Linked DNA regions of Homo sapiens: region 2 is linked to region 1. Evidence: fine-mapped expression QTL. A gene starts in region 1. The other region holds a variant in brackets. All regions are shown on one strand. Distances are from middle to middle. Region 1 holds the start of CPLX1 (complexin 1). Region 2 overlaps PCGF3 (polycomb group ring finger 3).

The links.
Region 2: its variant is fine-mapped to the expression of CPLX1 in whole blood (TOPMed, PIP above 0.99).

Annotation. Positions count from the first base shown.
Region 1 is chr4:817,401-833,004 of GRCh38, reverse strand. It overlaps CPLX1 (complexin 1), which reads left to right and starts at 6,876. Exons shown (of 4, transcript NM_006651.4): 1 at 6,876-6,959; 2 at 8,404-8,513. The coding sequence starts at 8,483. RefSeq lists enhancers at 2,015-2,530, 2,531-3,048 and a silencer at 6,857-6,906.
Region 2 is chr4:753,817-761,816 of GRCh38, reverse strand. PCGF3 (polycomb group ring finger 3) reads right to left here. Exons shown (of 11, transcript NM_006315.7): 9 at 401-538. It overlaps LOC124900163 (chloride intracellular channel protein 6-like), which reads left to right. Exons shown (of 2, transcript XM_047416474.1): 2 at 1-8,000. The coding sequence starts at 1,770. The coding sequence ends at 3,653. PCGF3-AS1 (PCGF3 antisense RNA 1) reads left to right here. Exons shown (of 3, transcript NR_171661.1): 3 at 1-1,374. Among named protein-coding and RNA genes, the nearest start is that of PCGF3-AS1, 24 kb to the left of the region's middle. The variant G/A (reference allele first, on the strand shown) is at 3,777.

The DNA.
Region 1 (15,604 bases):
AGGGCAGAGGGCGCAGCCACGTCCACAGTCAGCACCAAACTGCAATTCCCAAGCAGCCCAGAGGGCCCGAGGGCTGGAGCCTTCGGCCCCCAGGGGTCCTTGCTGGGCACCTGTGGGTGAGGGGAGCCCTTCAACCCTCCCATCTTCTGAGGAGCCGGCACGGAAAGGAGCCCTGAGTGAGGCCTGGAGCTCTGGGGGCAGGGATGTGGCCCAAAAGGCTCAGCCCAGCCAGGGCAGCTGACTTGAGTCCCCAGGCTCGCCATGCCTGGCAAGGGGCTCGGGTGGCCCAGATTGAGGCAACTCCCTCAATGCCTCCTCCATGGGGTCCTGGCTGGGTGGCCCCCAAGCCCTCTCCACACCCCCCGGGTCCCCGTGTGTTCTGCCCCAGTGCCCTTCCTGGCCCCACCTGGGAAGTCACCGCCTGGGACTGGGCTGCCCCAGGGTGCCCGCAAGTTGACTCTTTTCAGTAAATGCCCCGTTTCCTTTGTGGGGCTGACTCTGCTCCAACATTGTTGGTTTAGGGCCAGTGGTATGACGCTGGGCTAAGGGCTCACCTCTCTGAGCCACACCAGCCTCACCATTAGCACAGGTTGGGAATCACACCCTCCAGATGTTTCTGCAGCACCTGTGGGGTCACAGGTACCCCTTTGCCACTGTGTGCTGGGACCGTGGGGTGCACAGCCTGGAGCAGCCTCCCCCAGGCTGGACTCAGGGCTCCTTTCTGTCCCCGCCCCAGGCCTCAGCCCACACTGTGGGCACTCCTTGGGTTTCCTGTGACAGGCCTGGGTGACCTCCAATCATTTAGGGCTGGCTTGATCACCCACCGGCCGTGCTCCCCTCACCTGTGACGGGCCTGGGTGACATCCAGTCATTCAGGGCTGGCTTGATCCCCCACCGGCCGTGCTCCCCTCACCTGTGACGGGCCTGGGTGACATCCAGTCATTCAGGGCTGGCTTGATCCCCCACCGGCCGTGCTCCCCTCACCTGTGACGGGCCTGGGTGACATCCAGTCATTCAGGGCTGGCTTGATCCCCCACTGGCCGTGCTCCCCTCACCTGTGACGGGCCTGGGTGGCATCCAGTCATTCAGGGCTGGCTTGACCCCTCAACAGTTGTGCTCACCTCACCTGTGATGGGCCTGGGTGACATCCGGTCATTCAGGGCTGGCTTGACCCCCCACCGGCCGTGATCCCCTCACCTGTGATGGGCCTGGGTGACATCAAGTTATTCAGGGCTGGCTTGACCCCCCAATGGCCGTGTTCTCCCTACTCTGTCTCAGGCTCCTGCAGGGTTCTTGTTGCCATCTCCTGAGCTCCTGTCCACTGTCTCCTCCCAGCACACGACCCTGTGAGGACACAGCCCCACCTGCCCTCCTCAGGACAAGTGCCCAGCTCCCAGCAGTGTCTGGAAACACTTGTGTGCTAGTGGGTGGCTGAGCTACTGAGGGCTGAGCCAGTGCCTAAGCAAAGGAGCAGGGTGGGTGGACGGGGCCAGGGGCTGTGGGATACACATACCCTAGGCAGCAGCTTCTCCCGTATCACCTCGTGGGAGCCTCTGAAGCTTCCTGAAGCTTCCTGGAGGCAGCTCAGAGAGAGGCCACACAGGGCCAGGCTGCCCACTCCACACGTGTGTCCCTGGCCCAGCAGGAGCCCCTGAGCAGGGGGAGCTGAGACCCAGGAAGCCTTGGTTTGCAACGCACAACTTCTGTGCTGTGAACACCCCTGTCTGCTGGCCTCCAGCTGCCCAGGCACCTTCCCTGGAACTGGACACCCTCCCTCTGCTGGGCGCCGCTATGCTGTCTACACTGCTGGGGTGACTGCCCTGTCCTGCAGCACTGCCTTGGCGCCCACTGCCCTGTGAGACGGTGCTGCCCTCCCGCACCTTCCCAGGCCCACCCCACCCTAAGATGCCCCTGCTCTGCCCTCCAGGGACAGCCCCAGGGACTCACTTCCGCCACTGTGCCCCCACCACACCCATGGACACAAAGTCCGACAGTCAGGAGGTCAAGCCCTAGGGGACACAGAGAAGGCCACAGCCCGGCTGAGCCGTGCACGCCCTTTCCCTAAGTGAGCACCAGGGCTGCCGGAGGGGTCCCGTGCTCCTGGGGAGCCAAAATAGCTCCTCCTCCCACTTCCTGGGCATGAAATGCTCCCAAAAATACCCACATGCATGTGATGTGGCCTCACTCCAGGTGTCACTGGAGGAGAGGGAGGGAGGGAAGGGGCATTCGGCGTTCTGAGCCTGGCTTCAACCCAGCTCTCCCTGCCCTCTGCCCCCCGCCTACCCCTTCCGGCTCCATCACACGGCACTCAAGACCCTAAGGAGCATCTGAGGCTCTGGGTCCCAGGAGTGCAGGTGTTTGGCCCAGGATCCTCCCGGGAAACTTCTCCTCCCCACGACTGGCAGCTCCCAGGATCTCTTGCCCATCTCCAAATTCCAGCACCACCCACTGTGCTCACCACCCAGCCAGCCACACCCCTGGGCCAGCCCTGCCTCTCCCAGACGAGCTGTCTCTCACCCTGTCCTCCGGGAAGGCCCCTGAAGCCCCTCCTTCCTGCCCTGAGGTGTTGAGGCTGGGAGGGCGGAGTCCCTCGAGCAGCTGCAGCCCACAGCAAGGCCCCTTTCCTCCACAGCCTCTGGGTTTGTCCACCCCAAGCCCACTCCCCACGGGCGGCTCTTTTGTTGCCCTGGGTCCCTGGTGGATCAGGGTCCCCGGCTGAAGGAGGCCAGATCCACACCCCACACTCAGCGCAGGGCTGGAGCCGGTGGCTCCCCCTGAAGCTGGAGGGCCCTGGCCTGGCGGGTGGGCTGCCCGGGACCTGGCCTTGCCCAGCTCAGAGGCTCCCTCCAGCCAGGGGTGAGTGCCGCTGACCCGGCTACCTGGTGCTGCTGACTGCATGGTTGGGACCATGCTGGGCCGCAAGAGATCAGCTCAGAGCGGGCCCCATGTGTGCCCTGGGGCACCATGAGATCTGGGCACCGTGTGACCGGGCAGCCGTGGATCCCAGGACCCCAGGGCAGGGCCTGGGGCACAAGCATTCGCTCAGCTGCGGCAGTACCTCTGCTCTGCTCCCAGGGGCCCACTAGGCTGACCTCCCAGGCGCTGGCTTCCCCCGGCTAGATGCTGGACCTCTCTCACCCAGTGGAGGAGGGGAACGGGTTCAGGGCGCTTCCCAGGCGAGGACACCCTCCACTCAGCCCAGGTCCTGCCCCAGCTCTGGCAAACGGCAAGGGTCTACATCTTGCTTTGCTCACGCTTTTCACGTGTTGTTACTTTTGGAATATCAAAATCCAGCAGGAAAATGACAGCGTGGATGGTGTCGGCACTCAGACTGAATCACTCAGCACATGTAACTATTAAGTTTGTGTTTGAAGGTTCTGGGTGGGTGCTGTGGGCCGGATCCACACATGCGGTGTGGCAGAGCGCTGCCCTCCTGCTGGGCCCATGGGGGACATGGCCCCCTGGCCACACCCCACGCCAGGACTGAAGGCCAACCCCAGGAAACCCTGACAGTGCTTCCCAGACCCTTTCCTGGCCCAAGGCAAGGAGGATGCCTGGCACCCAGGAGGGCTATGGGCAGATGGGACCCAGAAGATGGGAGCAGGGTGGCAGTGGAGGCCTTGGCAGGGGCTTCCAGAGAGGCTAGAGCTGGAGGTTGCAGCAGGGCAGCTGCCTCCTTTCCCTGCTGTCTGGAGTGACCCCGCAGGGTCTCAAACCCAGTGCCACATGGTCCTCACACAGTCCTGCTTTGTGCTCCTGGGGTCCCTGGCCTCACTGGGGCTGGGGATGGAGCATCTGAGGAGCAGAGGGCTGGCTGGGCCGGGGGTACCATCCATGTCCAACCGGCTGGCACAGGCCCCACAGCCAGGGCTCGGCCCAGCCAAGCACTCACACTTCTCCAAGCTGACCTCTGGGGGAGCCCTCGTTGGAGCTCCATCCTGCTCCTCCCGGACTTGCTCCACACCCCACCTCCTCCTTCTCCCAACATCCGCCTGGACGGGGTGGCCTCCAACTCTTCCCCGGCCTGCAAAATGTTTTCCCTGCCTGGATCTTCAACCTGGCCTTCAACCTGCTGGCCCCTTTCTCACTCAGCTCCTGCCCCTTTCCAGCCGGCTGGAGGTCTGCGGGGCTTCTTCTCCAGGGCTCAGGGCCTCCTCTGGGCACTCGAAGGGCCAACCGCACCTGCCCTGGTGTGGCCAAGTGGCCCGTGGGGGTTGGCAGAGGCCTTTTGCCGCGTCACCACCTTCTGCCACTGGAACGGAGCCTGGGTGGCTCCTGGCCAGCAGCCTGTGACTCCCATCCCAGCTGGGCAGCCCTGGCCTGGCTCACACACCCTGAGTGGGCACCACCCTGAAGCCCTCCAGCAGATGCCCACTTTCCCTTCCCCTGGCCCAGCTCACACACCCTGAGTGGGCACCACCCTCAACTCCTCCAGCAGATGCCCACTTTCCCTTCCCTAGGCCACTTGTCACTCTGACCTGGGGCTGTCACCAACCTTGTCTATTTCCCCCAAGTTGTGGCTGGGCCCCCCCACCCCCAGGTTAGGGCCTAGACAAGTGTGAGAGCTGAGAAGCAGTCACTGCATGTGTGGCTGGATGTAACAAGTAACAACAGGGACAGGCAGAGACAGAGAGAGACGGACACAGAGAGACAGAGACAGACACAGAGACAGAGAGATACAGCGACAGAGAAAGAAAAGACAGAAAGACAGAGACAGAGATAGAAAGAGACAGAGAGACAAAAAGACACAGAGACAGATACAGTGACAGAGAAAGACAGAGACAGAAAGATAGAGACAGAGAGACGGGCAGAAAGACACAGTGACAGAGAGATACAGCGACGGAGAAAGAGACAGAGAGAGAGGCAGAGGAAGACAGGGCAGAACGTGAGGGCTGGCAGAGGGTCTCTGTCCTCTGTGCCCCAGGCCCCAGCTCCAGGTGTGCTTGGAGCTCAGGCTGGCCTGGGTTGTAGAACGGGGAGGGGTCAGCCTAGGAGTCCAGTGCTTCTGCTCGGAAGAACGGGCACCTCCCTGCACTCCTGTGCAGACTGTCCCAAAGGCACCAGCATATCCCTTGCATGCAGCTTGTGGAGGTGGCAGGGTCAGTCATGAGCCTGGCTCTGGGCTCAGGGGGTCACCCCTGGGGTCCTCTCTGGGGTTACTGTCCGGGTTAGCTGTTGGGTTATCCACCCAGTTAGGGATGGAGAGAGAAAGCACCAGGGCCGAGAAGTGACCTCTTTCTTGGACCCGAACATCTCACCCTTGCTGTCCCCTCCCAGGTCCTGAGGAGACTAGAGGAGCAGATGGAGCAGAGCAGGCTGGGGCTCAGGCCGGGCCCCCAGGCATGTGTCCTGCCTCCTGTCCCTGGGCCCAACGTTCTGAGCCCACTTGGCTCAGATCCCGGGAGAGAGGAAGGGACGGTGCTGGGGGTGCCCATGGCTTCCAGCCAGGGAGGCTGAAGAGACCCCAATCCTAGGGCATGGGTCCCCCTCTGGGAGGTTGCCTGTGAACCCCCAGGCCCACGGGACCCTCATGGCTGTCTCAGGGAGCCCCCATGGGCTTGGCCCTGGTGCCTTCACCCTTCCCTCTCCCCCAGCGCTCCCTTCCTCTGCGAAGGGTCCCCTGCCAAGTCAGCAGAAGAGTGGGGACGGGGGCAGAGGCGCTGGGGCCAAGGCTGGGAGTCCAGGCCTCTGAGTCCTCCTGAGCTCAGGCTAAACACGGGGCACCGGAGGGGATGGGGCTGAGGGCGGGGGAGGGGCCGCATCTTCCCTGCGCCAGGGGAGTCCCCAGGACTCAGCAGGGAGGGGACAGTGACAAGTTAGTGCGGCGGCCACCGGCAGCGGCCCCCCTCCCCCCTCCCCACCCCCACCCCGCCAGGAGCACAGGGCAGCTCTAGGGTCGCGGTGCGCCCCATCCCTCCCGCCGCCTGGCTCCCGACACTGCACAGCGCGAACCGCAGGGCCGACCTTGCGGCGACCCCGCTCTCCCGCAGTGCCGCGTCCGCTGCAGAGGAAATCCCGGGGGCCAGGGGAGGGAGCGGTGGGGTCTCTGGCCTTCGTCCCGGTAAAGGAAACAGCGACTCCGTTACACCGAAAGTGAGCCCGGGCCGGCCTGCGGGTCTCTGGCTGCGAGGGGCTTGCGTGGGTTTTCAGGGGTCTGGGGGCCCCCTTCTCCCGCCCTGCGATACGGGGAGGTCGGGGCAGAGGGGTCGGGGCGGCGGGCGGCGCTCAGGGACACGGTCACCGGAGAATGGGGGCGGCAGCGACTCCCAACCCCTGGCCCCTCCGCTCGGGAGGCAGCGACTTCTCCGCCCGAGGGTTTTGCACCCACCGGCCCCGCGCGGACCCTGTAGGGAGCAGGCCCGCACCGTCGGGCTGGGGGCGGGGGGGCAGAGCCGGGGGCGCCCAGATCAGGGGCGGGCGGGGGTCGCAGGCGCCCGCCGGGGGAAGGTCGAGCCCGGGCCGGGTTGGAGGGAGGCGGGGGCGCGTCACTCGGGTCCACCCCCGCCCCCGCCCCCGGGTCCACCCCCGCCCCCGCCCCGGGTCCACCCCCCGCCCCCGCCCCCGCCCCCCGCCCCCGCCCCCGGGTCCACCCCCGCCCCCGCCCCGGGTCCACCCCCCGCCCCCGCCCCGGGTCCGCCCCCCGCCCCCGCCCCCCGCCCCCGCCCCCGGGTCCACCCCCCGCCCCCGCCCCGGGTCCACCCCCCGCCCCCCGCCCCCGGGTCCGCCTCCGCCCCCGCCCCCGGGTCCACCCCCGCCCCCGCCCGGCGCCCGCGGCCCCGCCCCTCGGCGCTCCCCTCCCCGTGCTCGTCACGCTCGGACGCGGGCGGGGGGCGGGGAGCGCCTGCGAGTGACGCGCCCTCCTCGCGGTGCCCTTCAGCCGCCGCCGCAGCTCACCGGGCGCCACATGGACCCAGCCGGCCCGAGCGCGCCCCGCCGCTGACCGCCCGCGCCCCGGGAAGGTAACCGCGCCCCGAGCGCAGCGCGCGCCCGGCCTCCGCTCCCCGGGTCTCCCCTCCCGGCCCCGGCGTCTCCTCCCCGGCCCCCGCTTCTCCCCGCTTCTCCCGCCGGCCCCGGTTTCTCCTTCCCGGCCCCCCTTCTCCCCGCGGCCCCGGCTTCGCCCAGCTCCTCCCCCCGGCCTCCGCTCCCCGGGTCTCTCCTCCCCGGCTCCGGCTTCTCCCCCCGGCTCCGGCCTCTCCCTCCGGCCCCCGTTTCTCCCCCCGACCCCGGCTTCTCCCCGCAGCCCCCGTTTCTCTCCCGGGCTCCGCGCGCGCGGGGTCCGGGGCGGGCGCTGTCCACTGCCGCGGTGCTGAAGCGGCCCCCGCGGTCCCGGCCCGCGCCCGGCCTCCTCCTCGCTTCTTCCTGTCTCGAGGCTCCCCCTCTCCTCCCTCGCCCTCTTTCTTTCCTCTCCTGGCGCGCTCCCGCCTGAGGGCCGCTCGCCCGCCCGCAAAGCCGAGGGGTGCGGGTGCGGCGGGGCCGGAGCCCTGCGGGTCTGCGGGGCCCGGCCGTGCCCTCCTTCCCCGCGCCGCGGGAGCCAGGGGAGAAGTTTGGAGGAGAATCGGCGCTGCGGCAAAGCCTCCGAGGGGCGCTCCCCGCCCGCCGCCCTCCCAGTCCCCGCGCGAGTCTCCTTCCTCTGCGGAGGGCGAGGGGTGAACCGTCAAACAGTGTCTCTCCAGGGACCTGGGGTTCCCCGATAGGAGAGACCCCGCAAAACCGGGGGGCTCACTGCGGCTGCTGTGATTTCAGAAAGCGGCTTCCCAAGAGGGGACCAGAGCGCCCCACCCCACCCCATGCACGCCCCCGGGGCGGGGGTGCTCTGTCCCCGTCCCCACGTGTTTCCTGAAGGCTGAGCCCCCTGAAGTTTCTCCCCAACCCCGATCTCTTCTACGCGGGCCATGTGGGGGGCACACTGACTGCAGTGCCGTCAGGGATAGGGTCACCCAAGCCTCCCTGGTCAGAAGCCACAGGAGCCCGCCCTGAAGGGTACCCGCTCAAAGACCCACCCCCAACCCTTCTCCACGGCCCTGGGCTCGGGACCACCGCGGAGGCGCCGCTCCAGACACTGAGCTGCAGAGCGGAGCAGTCACCTTCAAACGCCCCCTGGGCCCCGCCCCTGCTTCCGCAGCCTGGCGCCAGGCGCCTCTGAGCGATGCCCCCTAAGCCATCAGCAGCCCTCCCTGCAGAGGCTTCAGACACCCCAGGAGCTGGGGAGACCATTTTCAGGTCCTCTGGGGTCCTGGTTTGGGTGTGGGGACAGAAGCCCCTCACGAAGGACTTCCCAGGCAGCCGCTCCAGGTGGGGGAGGGTCCAGCCCACAAGGTATTGCGGGTAAGGAATGATGGTCTCTGGGGAAGGCCAGGCAGGGGCCTGCTTAGGGTGACCTGTGACCACTTCACTCTCCCCCAGGAAGAACACTCGCTCCCGGCCATACTTGCGTGTGAGTTCTGACCCCTGGAGGAGCCACTGTGGAAGCAGAGCAATCGCCATGGAGTTTGTGATGAAGCAGGCTCTAGGAGGTAGGAAGCGGGAGGTGGGGTGGGGAGGGGCTGAGGGGACATGGAGAGACCACCACAGCAGCTGCTCCTCATCTGGCCCACCGCAGCAGCGCCCCTGCAGCCACACGGCCACCCACGCAGCCCTGCACAGGAGCCTGGGGCAGAGGAGCAAGGACCGTGCCCAGCAGCGCCCCCAGCCCGGCCCTTTTCGAGGCCCCGAGCCAGAACTGGTGTTCCTGGCGGGACAGGGGCTGCCCTGTAAGCTCACTCTGCCCCACTGCTGTGGTCGGGGCAGAGCCCATGGACCATGCTGATGCACGTCCTGGGGGAGGGTGCACACTCTGGCGTAGGCTTTACAGGGCCAATTCTAACTGGCCAGGCTGGGCAGCCCCCAAGGGGGCTTCCTTCCAGATGAGGAGAGCCAAGCGGTGGGAGAGCAGGATGCAGGTGGCAGCCTCAGGGACAGGCGTGGGGACAGAGCTGGCCTGTGCATCTGGCGAGGACCCTGTGGGTTTCACTTGGGTGAGGCAGCGCCATCCTCAGGGACCAGGGCTTGCTGGTTACGGGAGCGAAGGAAAAGGCCCGAAACAGCTTGTGTGTCTCGACTGCCTCCCAGGCGGGACGTGCAGCCTTTTTTGTGTGTACTGGGGTGGGGCCAGGCCCCCTTCCAACCTGCTGTCTGCTATTTGAAAGGAACCTCGTCCCCACTTGACCCAAGGCTGTCATTGTGGCCAGAGACCATGTCAAGAGCAGTGGCTGGGTTCCTAGACCAGGAGGTGGGCAGGGCCTGGGCCATGCTGGTACAGACGTGTCCCGGCAGAGCTGATGGGTCAACTCAGGCCTCGGGGCTGTCGTGGCGAGTCTCAGTTTTGCCCAGAGCCGTCCATCCTGTGTTCCCCCAGCACCAGTGCCCAGAACTCCTGTGAGGGGAACCTGTGGCCGGTGCCCGATTCTACCACTAGAGACGTCTTGCTTGGGTGGCCTCCACGGGGGAGCACCCTCACCTGATGCCATTCACACCTTGGAGTGAGTCAGGCCTCCTGGGAGCATTTCTGCAGTGGGGGAGCTGGCCGGGTTCGAGGGGCCAGGGACAAGGGTGTACAGAGGGCAGGCGCCGCTTCCCCCAGGGCAGGAGCTGCCTGCCTGGCTGTCTCCCGGAGGGTGGCTGTGCTTCCACTCAACACAAATTAAATGAAAAGATATTGAGCCTGTCCTGGGGCCACATCCCTGAGATTTCGTGGTCAAGGGTAAGAGTCAGGTTGAGTCTAATTATAATGGCTGCGTCACCGGGCTGTGATTCAGGGACAAGCCTGCATCTGCGCTGGGAGGGACGCACGTTCCACCCAGGGAGTCCCAGGCTGTTACGGATAATTAATTAGTTGGCTAATTCAGGCCCTGAGGTGGGCTTGTAAGAAACTGAAATATCTTATTTGGCTGTCTACATGACTGAAATTAGCTGGGTAATTACCAGCCTGAATTCCCTTTTTGTTTCATGGCAGCCCAAAGTTTCTCCAGCAGCAGCAACCGGGCAGGCGTCGCTCAGCGTGGTGGAGCTGAGCGGGGGCAGCCAGCAGACCCTGGGGGGGCTCCACGCTGAGTGCTTCCCAGAGCACCCCACATTGGCTTTGCAGAGCACGTTGAGGCTCGGAGCCAGAGCTGCTGAGGGCGGGAGCTGGTGGGGGGCTTCCAGTCGAGACCTTGTTTTCTGCCTCTGCGCCTCTGTCCCTCACCCGGCGAGCCTCATTGTTGCTGTCTCAGGATGCGTGTGAGTGAGACAGAGCAAGACAGAGATGGGAAATGGGGGAACCTCCAGACAGCACGACAGAGCTTGGCAGAGACCCCAAGAGAACTATTGAGAAACAGACCAAGCCCCGGACACAAAGAAGCTGGCAGGAGAGGGAGCAGGAGGCACCCAGGAAGCCGTTCAAAGAAAGGCGAACCCAGAAACAGGGTCGGGGAGGGGGAGCTGGAGAAAGAAAATGACAGCCCAGAAACAGACAGAGAAAAAGACAAGAATGTGTTATTCAGCACGCACAGGGACAGACAGGTGAAAACAGAGACGGCACGTCAGAGACAGAGGCAGAGGGGAGAGAGAGAAAGAGGGAGAGACGGAGACAGAGATAGAGGGAGACACAGAGACAGAGGGAGACAGAGACAGGGAGAAACAGAGACAGGGAGAGATGGGAGCAGAGGGAGAGACAGAGGGATACAGAGAGACAGACAGACAAAGGAAGAGGGCAGAGAGAGGCAGAGGGAGAGGTGGAGGCAGAAGGAGAGAGAGAGACAGAGAGAGTTAGAGAGATAGAGATGGAGACAGAGACAGAGGGAGAGACAGAGATGGGGAGAGACGGAGAATCAGAAACAGAGGGAGAGACAGTGGTGAGAGGGAGAGACAGAGACAGAGGGAGAGACAGAGACAGAGGGAGAGACAGTGGGGAGAGAGACGCATTAGAAATGAACTGCTAAGAGGAGTCAGGGCCAGGAGCGCAGGCAGCATGGCACATGCACACGTGCACGCCCGTCAGAGGGTGCAGCAGAGAGGAGGAAGAGGTGAGGACCTGCCCAGGGCTCTGGGCAGGGGGACAGGCCTGGTTAAATCAAGACCATTCGGGGGCTGTCCGCGGCAGGCTGGGCCGCAGGTGTGAGTCTTGCTGAGGAGTGAGTGGCCCAGGGCCTGCTCATCTGACCCAACGCTGGGTCTCAAGGAGGGGCCCCTGTTGGGGCCACCAAGGGAAGGGAGCATGGTGGCTGCCGGGGTGATCGCTCGTGGGGGAGCGGGAGGCTCCTCTGCAGCAAAAGTGGCCTTGAACTGGGGCCGGGCCTCCCCCCACAACACGTGGGTCCGGATCCAGGGTCCTCAAGGGAGTAATTTAAAGAAACTGGTTTCCTCAGGCCAGAAAGTTGCAAACACGGCCTGGGAGCTCTGTGGACAGCGTGGAGGAACGTGGCACGTGTGGGTGCCGTGGTCACTGCAGACCCTCATGGGGCTAAATGTGGCAGAAGCGAGCAGCCACCCGCTCTCCCATCCTCCGCCTTGATGTGACACACGCCCTGTTTAAACACGCTCAGGTCCTCGGGAATGTGTGGGGCAGGCGGGCCGGGGCTTCAGGTGGGACACGGCTTGGAGGATGCATGTGCGGAGAGGCTGGGGTGCAGAGTGGGAGGCAGCCGGACACTCAGGAGAGCCTCTGACTGCCCCAGCGACAGAGCCCAAGGCAGGACTCACCCATGCTCGGCTCTGCCACGTGTGGGGAGGTCTAGCGGGCAGGTCCAGTGACTCCGGTGGTTCAGTCACGATGGACAGTGTCCGGCAGTGAATGCCCCTCACCCAGCCAGGCCCAACCTGGGGGGCGACAGCCTGGCCTGGGTTCAGTGGAGAAGCTGTCCTTGTCCCCGGAGAGTGGTACGCTGTTGGGTTCTGTGTCCAGTCCTACATGGGGAGGGAAGCAGGTGAACATCTGGGGAGAACACACCGTAGGGGTGCGGTCCTGGGTTTGGCGTGAGGGGGAGGATTGTGGTCATCCAAGCCGGGGTGGACGAGAAGTGTCTCGTGGACGGCCCAGGCAGGAAGTGCAGGGTTCCACCGTGTGGGAGAGCCCCTCCGCGCCCCCGTGGGGCTGGGCTGTGAGTTCTCGGCAGGAACAACCCAAGGGGCTTGTGGGGGCCACCGGTGTCCACCTTGGGGGTTCACGCGAGGCTGGTGAGGGGTGTCCACCTTGGGGGTTCACGTGAGGCTGGTGAGGGGTGTCCACCTTGGGGGTTCACGTGAGGCTGGTGAGGGGTGCAGTTGGGAAAGAATCTCCCTCTGTGAGCAGAGACCACCAGAGCCAGGAGTCCAGGCCAGGGATGCCCTGAGCCACAATGCAGCCAACACCAGCATCTCCCCCAGCCCTCCACGGGGATGGAGGGGGCACCTCCTTCCTCCTTCCCGGCACCAAAGTGGGGCTCAGCACTCACCATCTGGGACCTCAGGCAGGGCCATGGAGGCAACTGGGATCTGGGCAATCCTGCCCTGATTCCCAGTGTCCACCCCTGAGACTTACACCATGGGCAAGGTTGGGTGTCCACCCTGTCCCAGACAGAGGTCCCTCTGGCTCTCCTGCCTCTCTCTTCTTGCCCAGTTTGAAGCTCAGCCTTCTCTGTTTATTAGGGACCCCACAGGCTCCTGGTGGTTGAGGCAATGGGGGATTCTGCCAGTTCCTGCCCCATTGGGCCACTGATCAGGCTCTCTGGACCTGGGAGGACGATGGAGCTGCAGGCTGGGCTGAGCTGGGTCCGGGAGGACGGTGGAGCTGCAGGCTGGGCTGAGCTGGGTCCGGGAGGACGGTGGAGCTGCAGGCTGGGCTGAGCTGGGTCCGGGAGGACGGTGGAGCTGCAGGCTGGGCTGAGCTGGACCTGGGAGGACGGTGGAGCTGCAGGCTGGGCTGAGCTGCAGGGACAGCAGCAGATCCGGAGGTGAAGCTCTTGAATTCCACATGGGGAAGATTCTTTTGGCTGCAAGTAACAATCAGAGGAAGAGGAGCTTGAATTGGGGTGACGATGTGTCAGGAGGTGGCCCAGCTGCTCAGCGATGCTACTGGGGACCTGGTGCCATCAGGTGCCACCTTCGTCCTCAGTGGATCTTTCATGCTCAGCTGCTCCTCACAATCTCAAAGTGGCTGCTGCTGCTCCAGCATTGCATCCATAGTCAGGGAAGGAAAAAGAGAGGAGCTAAGGGGCAACCCCTTCATCTGTTTAGTGGTGGTCTTTACAGACTCTCATGGAGGGTTTCCATTTACTTGCCACAGCTAGAAGAGGAAGGTGGGGGCCAGGGTGGGCCCGTCCTACTCCAAACAGAGGCCGGGTGTTGGGCAGGCGTCCCACAGTGCCTGACTCACACCCAACTTGGGGAGACTTGGTTTCTAGGTGCAGAACCGCTAGGCAATGACCCCCCAGCAGTGTGTCCTTCCCAGCCTTACTCCTTGGAACAAGGCATGTGCTCGAAAGGCAGTTTGCAAACACTTAACAGTAAAATGCCAACATTTGTTCAGAACGGACTTCACAAACGCCGTGTGGTCGAGAAAGCACTCACTCACTTTGCTGGGTTCGGCAGAGATGCCTCTTATCCCAGATTTCTGGGAGGCTGGAAGGACCCTTCAGAGAAACTGCCTTTCCTCCCGAAACCGTGAAGGGCAGTCCTTTCCTCCAGAGAGGATGCTCTTGGTTGATTAAGCTGCAACTCAATTATAAATACTTTAGCCCCAACTTGGGAATAAAATGGATATTATGCACTTCAACTGACAAAGTTATTTATGTTTTTGCCTCATTGGTTGGCAAGACGTTCCAGTTGGGGTTAGAGCATTTGTTTCAATAGCTCCTGCGTGACAGGACTACTTCAGTCCCGCTTTGCTGCCATCAGACGCTGCTGGACTCGCACGGGGAGCGCAGAGCGTTTAATGCTGGGACATCAGACAGAACAGGGAACTGATGAAAGCTTCAGAATGAACATTGAGTCCACGCAAATCTGATGCTGCCAAACTTCAGAGAACCTGGGTCTCCTGGTCCACACGGAGATCAGACGAGGGGGACACTGAGTGCCTGGCAGCCCTTCCACTAGGCGGTCCCCCGGGATGAGGCGAGGCCCCACCCTCCAGCTCCACCATCCAGTCCAGCACCGTCCTTGGCCGCGGGCACTGCTGTCCTTGCCTGCGGACCGAGCGCCCAGCTCTTCAATACAGCACCTGGTCCTCGCTTTCAGGAGAGGATGCGTGGAGACAGGCGAGGTGGACGTGCCAATAAGTGACCCAAACAGTGCCAAGCTCGGCGGCAGATGGCGCAGCCGCCGGTTTCCAGGACAGTTGTAATCCTTGGCCCTCATTCGGCCTCTTCCCGTCACTCACATGGCGCGGCTTTCCTGGCCTCGGCGGTGTGGACGGGGGGCCTTGGCCATGGTTGCAGGACCCCAGCTCCAGCTCAGGTCAGCGTCTCATCCCAGGTGAGCTAATGAAGATCTGCAAAGCCACCAGAGTTGCTGAGGAGAGAAGAGGTGTTTGTGGCACTTCAGCGTGGGCGCAAAACAGAGGGAGCATTGCAGGACGTGCATCAGACGCTGGGCCCGGGGACCTGTGAGGCCACCATGTCAGCCTCTCTGAGACGGTGGCAGTCGAGGCCCGTGGCGGGGCTGGGGCTGGTCCACAATCAGCTTGACAAAGTAAGGTGGTGGCGGCCAGCCAGGCCCAGGGCCCCTGGGTGTCAGCAGGTGAGCAGGTCAGGCGGGCATGGCCCGGTGCTGCAACACCTCTCCAGCGCCTCGGTGCCTCCCCTCCCCAAGGGCTGGGGCGAACCAGGCTTGGCTTGGACCTGTGCTCAGCTGCACTGGGGCCTCTCGGGCAGCAGGCTGGACACCCAGCTCTCAGGAGGGGTGTGGGCTTGTCTGCAATGCAAGAACAGGAGCCAAAAGCCAACCTTCTTTTACACCAGATTCACCTGTGGTCATTCTTCTGACCTTGCCCAATGCGCTCAGGGATGACAGGTGGACAGTGAGCCACCCCCGAGGGCGGTGGCGCCTCCAGTGTCCCCTGTCAGACTTGGCTCCTCAGATGCTGGTTTATTCCTTGACACCGGATGGGGAAAATATTCTGAGATACTATGTCCAGCGTGCCCACAGGACCTCCCCTCACGGCTGGTGGGAACAATGCACCCTCCAATGGGCACCTGGGGAGGGTCTCTGGCCAGCAGCATCTCCAGATGGAAGTGGAGGGGAAGGGAGCCCCAGGGCCTGGAGGAGGAAATCCTCATGGCCAAGGGGGCGTGAGGGAAGGGGGCGGTCACTGCAGTCATCAGTGGGTAGGGATTCCTGATGCTCCATCCTTACTTAAAATTTTTCTCTTAATTAATATTAAATTATCCTGATTATGCTGGGTCTTGTTTTAATTTTTGCCTAGGAGTCTCCTTGGACTGATTTTTTTTTTCTTTTTGAGACAGAGTCTCGCTCTATTGCCCAGGCTGGAGTGCAGTGGCGCAATCTCAGCTCATATAACCTCCGCCTCCTGGGTTCAAGCGATTCTCCTGCCTCAGCCTCCTGAGTAGCTGGGATTACAGGTGCCTGCCACCACGCCTGGCTAATTTTTTTT
Region 2 (8,000 bases), 67 kb after region 1:
AAGGCCGCCTCATGCCAGCACTCCTTCGTCTCCTTACACACCACAGCCTGGAAGGGTCCTCCCTCTCTGCATCCGCCCATGTCTCCCCTTGTGAAATTAAAGCACAGAATTTCTCGTTTTGAGGAAAACCTTTATCCTATTTTAAAACAGTCTCATCATCCCCGCCCTAGTTCTCTCTTCCACTCACAGTAGCATTCCACGTTCCCTGTCTCTGGGCATCCTACAACCCTTAGGGCTGTCTCCTATCCCGCTCCCCGGTGAAGCAGGCAAAACGGATTTTTTTCTGGTTAAAATCTCCAAAATTGTTAAAAACAAAACAAAACTAAGCAAAGAATCTTGGAGTTACCTTTAGAAATAAGAGAGGACTTGTTATGGTTTCTACTTAGGGATCAACTGTTACCTCGTTAAAGGATGAAAGGTTGAGTTTTTTGGCGATGAACTTCTTCAGATGCAAGACGGTCGCCTGGGCTGAGCAGCGGATCCACTTCCGCTTCAGCCCGCGCAGTTTGCTGCTGTTACACTCCAGGCAGATGCTCACCTGCGGGAAAGGACGCTGGTGAGAGCGCAGCAGGAGGGTTCCCCCGGACGGTTCTGGAGGCTTCCTTAGACATATTTCACTAATTCCTCAATCTAGGACTGCTGACCTTTTTGAGATCAGACATCTGCTTTGACTTCAACACTGCAGAAAAAGAATCTTACATACCTTATCTGAAAACCTGTTTATCGTCTGCTTGCCATTTTGTGAACTATAACCTCACCCTGTTAATTCTGTGTTATTAACATAATAGTTGAGAGTTAATCCCACAGTTACTTATCCATCGCAGGCACTGGGTTCTTGGTCTCCAGCTAAGCCTGTCCGGACAAACATGGCGCAAAGGGGAGTGGGCGGCCCCGTGTCTGCGAATGCACTCGGGGAGACAGCAGCGACTGCAGGAAGACAGTAGGGAGAAGCCTTGAGCAGGGCCACAGGCGGAAGGTCACAGCTGCCTTCCAGGTGACCAGCAGTTTGGCCGCAGGATAAAAAGTGACTGTTAAGGGGACTGTGGAGTCCCAGCAGCCACGGGCTCCCTGCCCGGTGCGAAAAGGAATCTGCCCAGGACGAGGCTTCACCCAAGGGCCCGGCCGGCTTGGCCCCCAAGATGTGCCTGACAAGGAAGGGCGACGCTCACGGCAAACGCTTCTACAGGTGGAGCCGCAACAAACGGCACAGTTAGGGCCTAAAAATGCAGTGGAAGAATGGACAGGGGGTTAACTGAAACATGTATGTCTAAAATTACAAAAGATACAAAAGGGAGGACACCAGGGGTACAGACGGGCAAGTATTGAAGGTAATCAGATACAATTTCTAAAAATAAAAACACTCACGGAAACTAACATCTCAGTGGATGGCTGAACCACAGATTCTTCTCAGCCGAGGACAGATTAATGTCCTAAAAAAAAATTCACTTGAGGAAGTTACCCATCAGGAGTAGAGATAAACACACCAATTCAAACAATAAAAGGAAGGCTAAGAGAAAGGGGAGAAGACGGGAGCCCCAAAGGGAAGAACAGAAAGGAAAGGAAGTGTTAAGAAACAGTGACTAAGGATCTCCCACAACAGTGAAGGGCAGTCCTCAGATTCAGGAAGCAAAAGAATCCAAAATACAAGAAATACCCACTCCGACACGGTGCAGTCACTGAGCACAGCCCATTAAAGGCCCCGCAAGAGCCACTGGGGAGATAAGTGGATTCTGTGCAAAAAGCAAGAGACATCCTTGCTCCGGGGTGGGATGGAGCGAGGCCGCCTGCAAGCATCACAGGAGAGGGACAATGTGAGCGGGAAGAAGATCCGGGAGTCTGGAGAGAGAACTCGGGAGAGAGGCCGTGGGGAGAAAGACCCGGAGTCCGGAAGGAGAAGAACTCGGGAGAGGGGCCGCGCGGGGAGAAAGACCCGGAGTCCGGAAGGAGAACAACTCGGGAGAGGGGCCGCGCGGGGAGAAAGACCCGGAGTCCGGAAGGAGAACAACTCGGGAGAGGGGCCGCGCGGGGAGAAAGACCCGGAGTCCGGAAGGAGAAGAACTCGGGAGAGGGGCCGCGCGGGGAGAAAGACCCAGAGTCCGGAAGGAGAAGAACTCGGGAGAGGGGCCGCGCGGGGAGAAAGACCCGGAGTCCGGAAGGAGAAGAACTCGGGAGAGGGGCCGCGCGGGGAGAAAGACCCGGAGTCCGGAAGGAGAAGAACTCGGGAGAGGGGCCGCGCGGGGAGAAAGACCCGGAGTCCGGAAGGAGAACAACTCGGGAGAGGGGCCGCGCGGGGAGAAAGACCCGGAGTCCGGAAGGAGAAGAACTCGGGAGAGGGGCCGCGCGGGGAGAAAGACCCGGAGTCCGGAAGGAGAAGAACTCGGGAGAGGGGCCGCGCGGGGAGAAAGACCCGGAGTCCGGAAGGAGAACAACTCGGGAGAGGGGCCGCGCGGGGAGAAAGACCCGGAGTCCGGAAGGAGAACAACTCGGGAGAGGGGCCGCGCGGGGAGAAAGACCCGGAGTCCGGAGCGAGAAGAGCTCGGGAGAGGGGCCGCGCGGGGAGAAAGACCCGGAGTCCGGAAGGAGAACAACTCGGGAGAGGGGCCGCGCGGGGAGAAAGACCCGGAGTCCGGAAGGAGAAGAACTCGGGAGAGGGGCCGCGCGGGGAGAAAGACCCGGAGTCCGGAAGGAGAAGAACTCGGGAGAGGGGCCGCGCGGGGAGAAAGACCCGGAGTCCGGAAGGAGAACAACTCGGGAGAGGGGCCGCGCGGGGAGAAAGACCCGGAGTCCGGAAGGAGAACAACTCGGGAGAGGGGCCGCGCGGGGAGAAAGACCCGGAGTCCGGAGCGAGAAGAGCTCGGGAGAGGGGCCGCGCGGGGAGAAAGACCCGGAGTCCGGAAGGAGAACAACTCGGGAGAGGGGCCGCGCGGGGAGAAAGACCCGGAGTCCGGAAGGAGAAGAACTCGGGAGAGGGGCCGCGCGGGGAGAAAGACCCGGAGTCCGGAGCAAGAAGAGCTCGGGAGAGGGGCCGCGCGGGGAGAAAGACCCGGAGTCCGGAGCAAGAAGAGCTCGGGAGAGGGGCCGCGAGGGGAGAAAGACCCGGAGTCCGGAAGGAGAAGAACTCGGGAGAGGGGCCGCGCGGGGAGAAAGACCTGGAGTCCGGAAGGAGAAGAACTCGGGAGAGGGGCCGCGCGGGGAGAAAGAACTGGAGTCGGGATGGAGAAGAACTCGGGGGAGGGGCCGTGCGGGGAAAGACCCGGAGTCTGGAGGGAGAACTCGGGAGAGGGGCCGCGTGGGGAGAAAGACCCAGAGTCCGGAGCGAGAAGAGCTCGGGAGAGGGGCCGCACGGGAAGAAAGACCCGGAGTCCGGAAGGAGAAGAACTCGGGAGAGGGGCCGCGCGGGGAGAAAGACCCGGAGTCCGGAAGGAGAAGAACTCCGGAGAGGGGCCTCGAGGGGAGAAAGACCTGGAGTCCGGAGCGAGAAGAACTCGGGAGAGGGGCCGCGCGGGGAGAAAGACCTGGAGTTTGGCGGAAGAAGTGAGAAGCAGGGAGAAAGGGGGTGCCCGGTGAGAGCCGCGGTGGGGGTGCTTGTGCAGGGAGGGGCACAGACTTACAGTGACTTTGGACTTTTTTTTTTTTTTTTTTTTTTTTTTTGAGACAGAGTCTCCCTCTGTAGCCAGGCTGGATGCCGTGGCACGATCTCGGCTCACTGCAACCTCCGCCTCCTGGGTTCAAGCGATTCCGCTGCCTCAGCCTCCCGAGTAGCTGGGACTACAGGC[G/A]CGCACCATCATGCCCGGCTAATTTTTTTGTATTTTAGTAGAGACGGGGTTTCACCAAGTTGGCCAGAATGGTCTTGATCTCCTGACCTCGTGATCTGCCCACCTCGGCTTCCCAAAGTGCTAGGATTACAGGCGTGAGCCACCGCGCCGGGCCAACTTTGGATTTCTAAAAATGTAAATAGTTTATACATTTTGTAACCACTAGTATAACAGAAGTAGAGCTTATACCTTGCAAACCAGAGGAAGAAAGAAAGAGATTAAAGAAAGTTACTAATTCACTAGACAACAGGGAGGAAGGAAGCATTAGGAAAAAACTGACGAAAAGAGCAAAATAAAAAAATAAAGCAGGAACCAACTCACATCCTCCATGGAAAATCGTGGAATGTGTAAGGTAACGTGCCAGCTAAAAAAGTTTGATTTTTTTAAAAAACCTAGCTCTACGTTGTAAACAGTGTCACATTTAAGACATTTTAAGAACAGAAATATCACACAAGTATTCACCAACAGAAAGCTGGCATAGCTAGATTAGTATGTCATGGGACTTTAAGAAATAGAGCTTAATGAGGAAGAAGCCCCCCAAAGACGAGAAACGTTTCTATACGGGAACACAGCTGGTGACAAACGCACGCCAACAGAATGGCCATGGTGGGCTTCACGTCTCTATAAGCAGCGGACGCACCCTGCCCTCAACAGGCAGCCGCCGTCTCCGACTCAGGGAACAGGTGTGCCAGCCACGCAGGCACAGGTCTGAGGCAGCGGGGTCTGCAGTGCATGGGGCCCGCAGGGCAGCAGGAAGGGCTGCACAGATGAACGCGGGCCTGCATGCACCTGCGGGAAAACGCAGACACACATGGGCGGGGGTGGGAGTGGGGGGGATTGTGGAAGGAAAACAAGAAGAAAATATGTTTACGTTTGCTCAGATTTGCATACATACAGGAGGTGATCACAGTGGTTCTCTATAGGTCACTACAGACAGCGGCAGAGATGAGAACAAAATTAAACCTTTTCAATAATACTAACCTCAGGACTGAACGAATTACCTATTTAAATACACTAAGTTACAAGCATGCTTCTAATTTTTAGGCTTTATTATGGCACAGTTTACACACACCTCTTTTATGTATATAATGCAATAATTTTCCGTAAATTCACAGACTTTCTCGATCATCGCCATGGCAGTCTCAGATGGTTTCCATCACCTCAGAGCCCCCGGCAGGCCCCTCTGCGATCTAACCCTGCTGGGGGAGCGGGGTGGGGAGTGAGTGTTTAATGGGGGCAGAGCTTCAGTTTGGGAAGATAAAAAGGCTCTGGAGATGATGGTGGTGGTGGTGGCTGTGTAACACTGGGTCTGTACCCAAGGCCACTGAACCACACACCTGAAAATGGTTAAAATGGCATATTTTATGTGCATGTAACACAATTTAGAAAGCTGGTTAAAAAAAACATGAAAATTCTAGAATTATTTTAATAAGAACCAAATTATGAAGCTGGAAACTAAAGGAATGTTCAACTCTAGAGTTTAGAAAAGAGCCGGGTGCAGTGGCTTACACCTGTAATCCCAGCACTTTGGGAGGCTGAGGCGGGTGGATCATTTGAGGTCAGGAGTTCGAGGCCAGACGGGCCAACATAGTGAAACCCCGTCTGTAATAAAAATACAAAAATTAGCTGGGCATGGTGGTGCGTGCCTGTAATCCCAGCTACTCAGGAGGCGGAGGTGGGAGACTCACTTCAACCAGGGAGGTAGAGGTTGCAGTGAGCCGAGATTGCACCCCCACACTCCAGCCTGGGCGACAGAGTATAAGACTACATCTCAAAAAAAAAAAAGCCAAGTGCGGCGGTGGCTCACGTCTGTAATCCCAGCATTTTGGGAGGCTGAGGCGGGTGAATCACCTGAGGTTAAGAGTTCAAGACCAGCCTGATCAACATGGAGAAACCCCGTCTCTACTAAAAATACAAAAAATTAGCTGGGTATGGTGGCATGTGCCTATAATCCCAGCTACTCTGTAAGGCTGAGACAGAAGAATCGCTTGAACCCGGGAGGTGGAGGTTGCGGTGAGCCAAGATCAGGCCTTGCACTCCAGCCTGGGCAAGAGGGAAACTCCATCTCCAAAAAAAAAAAAAAAAAAAAAAAAAAAAGGACAATTCTGAAGAAGAAAAATGAGGAGGGGTATGTACTCTCCCAGAAGACCACAACTTAATGGTAAAATAAATCATTGCAATTCAGTAAGTTCCTTGTTGTTTTGGCACAATGGGAGACAAGAGACCAGCGGAACAGAGCAGAGAGCCCAGGGGGACCTGAGAGTGTGGAAACTTGGCAAAGTTGAACTCCACCTTGTCCATTCTACACACAAGGTCAACTGCAGGGGCTTACAACCCAACTAAAAAGCAAACCTTTAAAATATTTTACAAGACAATGTAAGAGAATGTATTTATGACCTTAGAATGGGGAAACATTTTTAAGATTCAGAAGAAAATACCGATACATTTAATTATGTCAAATTTTAAAACTGTGGATGATGATAGGTCGAAGAAAGCCGACAGCCGCAGAAGGAAAGACGATCCCTGCAGTGAGCGTGGGGCGGCGAGGGAGGAGGTAGCCCTGCAGCTCACATAAGGAAAAGTCAGTCTTCCCAGGACAGAGATGGGCAAAGAACAAGTAAGCAACTCACACGCAGAGGAGCCCAGAGACGTGCGATGAGTCGCTGGACACCCCACACACAGGAGACTGGAATCAGAAATAACACAGATACCGTGGAACACACCTGCCCAGGGGGACAAGTGCAATGTCTTAGAAGAGTGATGGGCTGGTCACCACCTAAAAGTCTCCAGTATTAGATGGGAAATTAAGTGTAAAAAAGTCACAGCGTAACAACACGTGCCACGCACACAACGCCGTGTGCTCTGCGACACCACGCGGGCCTGTGTGCACACAGCAGTCACCATCAAGCGGGTACGTTACACACCTCGAAATGCAACTCTGATTGTAAAGAGGGCACTGCAGAAAGACCTGTCGCTGTCTATGGCTACACATCGGCCTGCCTGGGAACACTGAGCTCCTTGTCCACCTGGAAGTGAAAAAGAGCCCAAGATCTGCCATCTGCATCTGGATCACCAGCGAATCCTGCAGGCTCCCTCCCTTTTAAATATGCCCCAAACCCAGTGCTGCACCCGCACCGCCACCTGCCTGGGCCTCTGGCTCAGACGCCTGCCTGGTCTCCGCATGGCCACCCTGGCCGTGCAGGCAGCTCACTGCAGAGCAGCTGCGCTAAGTGGCAACCCTCTGGGGATAAAGCCACGCCAGGCTGCATCCCACAGCACACCCCGATCTCACATCCCAACTGCCTCATCTCCCTCCTCTGGGTGAACAGCAAGTTCTCGCCACAGGCCCCCAAGGTCCCCAACCTCACCTCCAGCCTTACCCGTTCACTCTGCCCCGGACTCACCACCCACGGCACGTGGGGCAGCCTGGCACCAGGTCCCAGCTCACTACCTCCTGCCTCACCTCTACAGTCCAGGAGAGGCTCTTTCTACCCTCCGCCCCTTCTACCTCCAGGGGCTCTGGCCTGGATGGGTGGGCTCTCCGCTCCCCACCAGCCAACCCTCACCACGCCGGCTGCGAGGCCCTTGCAGGCAGAGCCCACTTCCAGCAGGCGTGCAGCAGGAGCAGGTGACCGGCTCTCGGGTGTGAAGTCCCAAGAGCACAGCGCGTGCCCGAGGGTGCGGACAGGAGCCAGTGGGCCAGGGAGGCACAACTCGGAGGAGTGAAAACAAACCACATTTCCAGCTCCAGACACAAGAGCCATTGGAGCCTCTGGAGGGCGGCAGGGACCCCACACCAGAACCCCCAGCCTGCTCAGGGTATAGGAGCCATTTCCCCTGTTTCTGGTGCTGGGACATCACACCCACCAAGTCAACAGGCCCGGTAAGGGTTTCCTAACTCTGCACGAGCGAAGATGAGCAGAGACCACACCAGCCCTGCAGTCCCACTGGGTCTGTGGGTGCCAGGACCACCAAAGACGGAGGCGACTCCTGCCAGGACCCAGAACGCCCCTGAAGTCCACTGGGCAGCTGCTCGCTCCAAGGGAAGCTGAATGTAGGGTTCGTAGAAGGTCAGAGTCTCGCTCTTGTTACCCAGGCTGGAGTGCAGTGCCTCGATCTCAGCTCACTGCAAGTTCAAGCGATTCTCATGCCTCAGCCTCCGAGTAGCTGGGATTACAGGCACCC